Regions from separate parts of the Homo sapiens genome. Here region 2 is linked to region 1. The links come from fine-mapping of genetic effects on gene expression. Tissue or cell type: iPS cells. Region 1 holds a variant in brackets; the other region holds the start of a gene. All regions are shown on one strand. Distances are between the middles of the regions.

Region 1 (2,676 bases):
AGGCCAAGGTGGGAGGATCACTTGAGCCCAAAAGCTTGAGACCCAGCTGGGCAACACACTGAGACCCCCTCTACAAAAAATGAGCCAGGCAAGGTGCTGTGCACCCCTGTTCCCTCGGGAGCCCCAGAAAAACGATGAGCCCGTCCCCACCTCAGTCAGCACCGATGGGGACCCCAAGGCCTTGCGGGACAGGCTTCCAACACAGGCAGGAGGGCCACGCCCCAGGCGCTCAGCTGCCTCACAAGTTCTCATCAAGTAATGTGGAGGGAGATGCGTCCTGGCCAGGGCCTGGGTGAGGGTGGGGGGCAGATCAGGACCTAAGTCTGAGGAAGCTGGGGCCATCCACCCACCAGGGCCAACACTTCCCAGCTGACCTGCCTCTGACCACGACAGGAAGGTGGGGGGTACCACCTCTGTGGGGCCCCTGGCCCTCCTGCTGGGTTCCGGGCACGAGTGCAGGCCCAGGGGGCGAGCAGGAGCAACACCAAGACCGGCCCGGCGGGCAGCGGCAGGGGCTGGACCTGTGGCGCCGGGGCCTTGCTCCACACCACACACGAGGCCTCTGCCCTTCTGGGAGGAGAGAAGTGCTCACGCTACACAAGAGCCTTCCCCAGCCCTCAGCAGGACGGCCAGGTGTGAGCACAGAAGGCTCCTCCGTGGGCACCTCGGGAGTGATGGTCAGTGGGGGCCTTCCCAGGTGACTTAGGTCATTCTCATGTGGGGGTCAGACTGGAAATGACCTCCCGAGAGCATCTGTGCTGCCTGCGGGGTGACAGCCACGTCAGCTTCCCTCCTGCTCGGGGCTTCAGGGACAGCCTCTCTCTGGGGACATGAGGTTTTCCTCCTGGAGACGTGGGGCCCAGGGAGCCTGCTGGAGGGTGCCCGGGAGGGTGCCACAGTGACAGGGGAAGTGTGAGGCGTCACAGGCGACACTCGCCACACACACTGAAGCTGCACACACTGAGACTGTGCGGAGGCCAGGGGTGGCAAAGCAGGCCCCACGAGGCTGGCTGCGTGCGGGGTGCTCACCCGTGGC[C/T]GGTCCTGCGGTGCCTGCTGATCTCCTTTTCCCCCTCAATGATCCACTGCATGATTTTCTGGTTCTTCTCCGCATCCTCCGAGGCACCTGGCACCTCGGTGCTGGCGCTCTTCCCCGACTCAGCCTTCTTGGCATTTCTTTTGCACGCCACGCCCACCTTCCCACTGCAAGGGCAAGAGCTGCGAGTCGCCCTGGCCTCCGGTGGCCGAGGCTGTGCCCCTTCCTCGTCTGCGAGGCCCCCTCCTGGCATCTGTAAGGCTCCCGTGGTGCAGCCGCCGCCCGCTGTCCCCTGCCCGCTTGTCCCCCACCCGCTGTCCCCCGCCAGCTTGTCCCCCACCCGCTGTCCCCTGCCCGCTGTCCTGGTGCTGTCTGGGGGTTGGTTTCCTCTCTAAACACACAGGCAGTCACTGCTCACCCCCTGAAGACTGAGGGCCAGAGCGGGAGCCAGGGTCGGGCTGTGTCCCCTAACCTTCATCTCCCACCTGAGGTCACGGCGTGGACTCCCCTGACCCAGGGCCCAGTCCACTCCCTCCAGCAGAGGGGCCTCCTGCCTGTTGCTGGCGGTCCTGGGTTTCCTGAGTTTTATGAGGAGGTTCTGGCCTTCTGCAGGGACACAGCCTCACCCCAAGCCCCCTCCTCACTGACAGGCGCACGCTCACCTGTGGGCGAGGCCATCACTGGCGTTGGGGGCAGCGCCAACACTCTCTGAGTAGCCTCGGGACCTTGCCCCATGGCTGTGTGGTTCCAGGCCCCAGGCGAAGCTGCTCTGGGCCCTGCGGGTGGCCTCGGCCTCCACCTGCTCCTTGGGCCGGGCTGTGCTGTGGTGGACGTGGTGGTGGACGTGTCGGTGGTGGTGCAGGCCGGCCGCGTCCAGCTTCGCCCCTGACTTGGGTACGTGCTTCCCGTGCCCCGAGGCGGCACCCCCCAGTGCCACTGGCATCTTGGCCACGTGCCCACTGTCCGGGGAGCGATGGCCAGGCCCAGGCGACTGGCGGCCAGGTGTCCTCAGCACACGCTGTACGTGCTCGTCCAGGATGCTCTCAGGGTTCTCCTCGTGTGCATCCCGGAGCCCGGCACAGCCCATGTCCACACAGCGGGGCGGGAAGTGGTGCCAAGCGGGGGCGGGAGGCAGCTTGTGACACGGCCCTGGGGGCCCTGACGATGGATCGCCGTCCTCACCTTCCTCCTCCTGTGTGGGGACAAGCAGCACCATCACCTCTCAGCACCAGCTGCACACTTGGGGAAAACAAAAAGCATCAGGCCTGACCCAGCAGCCCCAGCAGATGCCGTCCCAGCCCAGGGTGGCCGGGGGCCCCTCGCCACCGGTCCTGTCCCTGAGGATGGAGAGGCAGGACGGGGCATAGACAGAAGGAGCGGAGACAGCAAGGCCTCAAGGAATGCAGCGTATGTATCGGCTGTGGGCAGAGCTCTGCACAGATTTAGTTTAGTTTTATTCTTTTTTTGAGACAAGTTCTTGCTCTGTTGCCCAGGCTGGAGAACAGTGGTGTGATCTCAGCTCACTGCAGCCTCCGCCTCCTAGGCTCAAGCGATCCTCCCACCTCAGCCTCCAGAATAGCGGAGACCACAGCCGTGTGCCACCACGCCCAGCTAATTTTTTTGTACTTTGGGGACAGATGCGA
Region 2 (2,676 bases), 55 kb after region 1:
TGTTTTCTCCAAAATAGGGCCTGTGGATCCAAGTAAGCTCGAGATTCTTCCTGAAGAAGCAGAGAACAGAAGTGTGAGCAAAAACAAGGGGCTGACATGCACATAAGAACCCTTTATAAATTATCTTAGAAGGGGCCAGGCGCGGTGGCTCACGCCTGTAATCCCAACACTTTGGTAGGCCAAAGTGGGCAGATCACCTGAGGTCAGGAGTTCCAGGCCAGCCTGGTCAACATGGTGAAACCCTGTCTCTACTAAAAATACAAAAATTAGCCGGATGTGGTGGCGCATGCCTGTTATCCCAGCTACTCAGGCGGCTGAGGCAGGAAAACTGCTTGAACCCGGGAGGCGGAGGTTGCAGTGAGCCAAGATAGCGCCACTGCACTCCAGCCTGGGCTACAGTGCGAGACTCCGTCTCAAAAAAAAAAAATTATCTTAGAGGACGGTGGTCACCCCTGTAGTCCCAACACCTTGGAAGGCTGAGGCAGGTGGATCGCTTGAGGCCAAGAATTCAACACCTGCTGGGCAATATAGTGACACCCCATCTCTACAAAAAATATATATATATATATCTTATAGATGGGCTGAGAAAAATCCCCAGAGAACTGACATGTTTTTCTCTACTTTCTTCAATGCCAAGCTGAAAGTTTCACTGCTCGGGCAGTGCAGCTCTGGTTTCACGGGGGCTAAATTCCAAAGTGCGGGGCGGGGGTAGAATCTAAGAACCACACCCAAGAGAAAGACCAGTGTTTGGGCAGCAAGGCATCAACCTGGAGGGTACGGACGCCGGAGCACGCGGCTACTCAGGCCGAACCCCGACCCGGACCCGGCACGCGGCCTCGGCGAGGGCGGGCGGGAGTGTCCTCCTCCGGGACAGCCGGACTCCCGCCGACTTCTGGGCGGCGGGGAGGGCTCCAGGCCCGGCTCTCCCGGGCCCCCGCACGCGATGCGCGGCCCCTGCAGCTGCTCCGTGCCCCGAGACGCGCCCGAGGCCTCGGACCTCCAAGCGGCCACCGCGCCGCCAGTCCCGCTGCCCAGGGACACCCCGGCCCCAGCTCCCCGCGCGCCCACCCCCTCGGTCCCACGCGCGTCAGCCACCCGCGCCCCCCGCCGCTTCCGGGTCCCGCCCGCCCGGCCTACCGCGGCCTAGCCCGCCCCGGAGCCCGGCCCTACTCACCCGCGCGCGGTGGTGGCGGGACCCCGGGCCCGGCTCCCGGAGCGGCGCGGCGCGGTCCGGGCCCATGCGCTCAGCGGCAGCGCGGCGGGCGGGACCCGGCGGGGGCGCGGCCCGGGGCGGCCCCCATCTCGGCGGCTGCGGCTCGGCGGCCCGGAGGCGGACGCGGGGCAGGCCGCGGGGGCGCCGCAGGGGCCCAGCCGCCAGCTCCCACCCGCCCGCTCCGCGTGGACGCGGCTCCGGGCCGACTCCGGCCGGCTCTGGCGGCGGCAGCGGCCACGATCGCCTCCCGAGCCAGAGCCCGAGCCAGAGCGCCGAAGCCCAGGCCCGAGCGCCCCCGCCGGCGGCGTCCGGAAGTGCGGGGGCGGGGCCGGGGCGCGGGGACGAGGTGAGAGCGCGGGGCGGGGCCTCAACACGGGGCGGGGCCGGCAGCGCGGGGACGAGGTAAAGGGTGTGGGGCGGGGCTTCAGGCGCGGGGCGGGGCTGAAAGCGCGAGGATAAAGTGAGGAGCGTGGGGCGGGGCCGACAGCGAGGGGACAGGTGAGGAGCGCGGGGCGGGGCCGGGGCGTGGGCGGGGCCGGAAGCGAGAAGACGAGGTGAAGAGCTCGGGGCGGGGCCTCGGGCGTGGGGCGGGGACCAGGGAGTAAGGCGGGGCCCGCCTCGAGCAGAAGAGGTAAAGAGCGTGGGGCGGGGCCTCCGGCGCGGGGCGGGGCCGGAAGCGAGAAGACGAGTTGAGAAACATGGGCCGGGGTCTCTGCATGGCCGGGAGAGGGCGTGGTCAGTGCCTGCCGGGGGCGGGGCGTGCCGGGGGCGCGGTCGCGCCGTCTTCCCGAGGGGCGGTGCGGAAGCGGAGCCCGGGAGGCTTTGGCTTCCCAGAGAGCGGAGTGGGAGAGGCGGCGTTGCAGGTCCTTGGAATGGCCGCGGCCGTGGGGAGCACTGGGCGGACTGCGCGCCCCGAAGGGCGCACGTGGGGCGCAGCCCTTTTCTGCCGCCAGTACATCGGAGGGCAGTCAGGGGGCTGCAGGCCTCGGGGCTCCCTGCCCAGCCGGCCCTGGAGAGGAGGCCCTCGTGGGGACCGCCACGGCCTGCCCGCCGCCGTGAGGGAAGCAGGCTCCCAGGAGTGGGGTGGTCGGCAGGCAGGGATGGCCAGGGCCCTTGGAAGGTGGGGTGGGCTCCACCCTCCTGAGTCCCAAGGCAGCCTGGACTCACAGCGCCAGGGAACACGTTAGGCCCCAATATATGGTGGCTCTCACCCGGACAGGAGCCACAACCTCCAAAGAGCCCACCGGCTAGGACCCTCTGCCTTGATTTCTCCCAGGCACCATCTAGTATCAGAGAAGGGTTCTCCTTCCCTCCGCTGCCCAGGCCAGCCCGAGAGCAAGGCCATTGGAGTGTCCAGACCCCTGCACCCCTTCCCCTGGGCTGTCTCCACAGCGGCCCTGCCAAGGGGTCCAGTCCGATCCTGCCACCCTGGCTGCCCAGATCCGTGTCACTTGCCCTGCAGG

Alleles and levels. Positions count from the first base shown, and alleles are read on the strand shown. Sizes are in standard deviations (SD) of each study's normalised expression.
For the expression in iPS cells of the gene that starts at base 1,529 in region 2, allele T in region 1 goes with a lower level than allele C (large effect, 1.4 SD a copy in HipSci).

The links. PIP is the estimated chance that this variant, and not a neighbour inherited with it, causes the effect.
Region 2: AXIN1 starts here. The variant in region 1 is fine-mapped to the expression of AXIN1 in iPS cells (HipSci, PIP 0.95).

What each region holds. Positions count from the first base shown.
Region 1 is chr16:296,027-298,702 of GRCh38, forward strand. It overlaps AXIN1 (axin 1), which reads right to left. Exons shown (of 11, transcript NM_003502.4): 6 at 1,696-2,225; 7 at 1,030-1,200. Among named protein-coding and RNA genes, the nearest start is that of PDIA2, 14 kb to the left of the region's middle. The variant C/T (reference allele first, on the strand shown) is at 1,037.
Region 2 is chr16:351,195-353,870 of GRCh38, forward strand. It overlaps AXIN1 (axin 1), which reads right to left and starts at 1,529. Exons shown (of 11, transcript NM_003502.4): 1 at 1,175-1,529. RefSeq lists silencers at 748-807, 818-887, 908-957, 1,238-1,317, 1,418-1,897 and 1 more.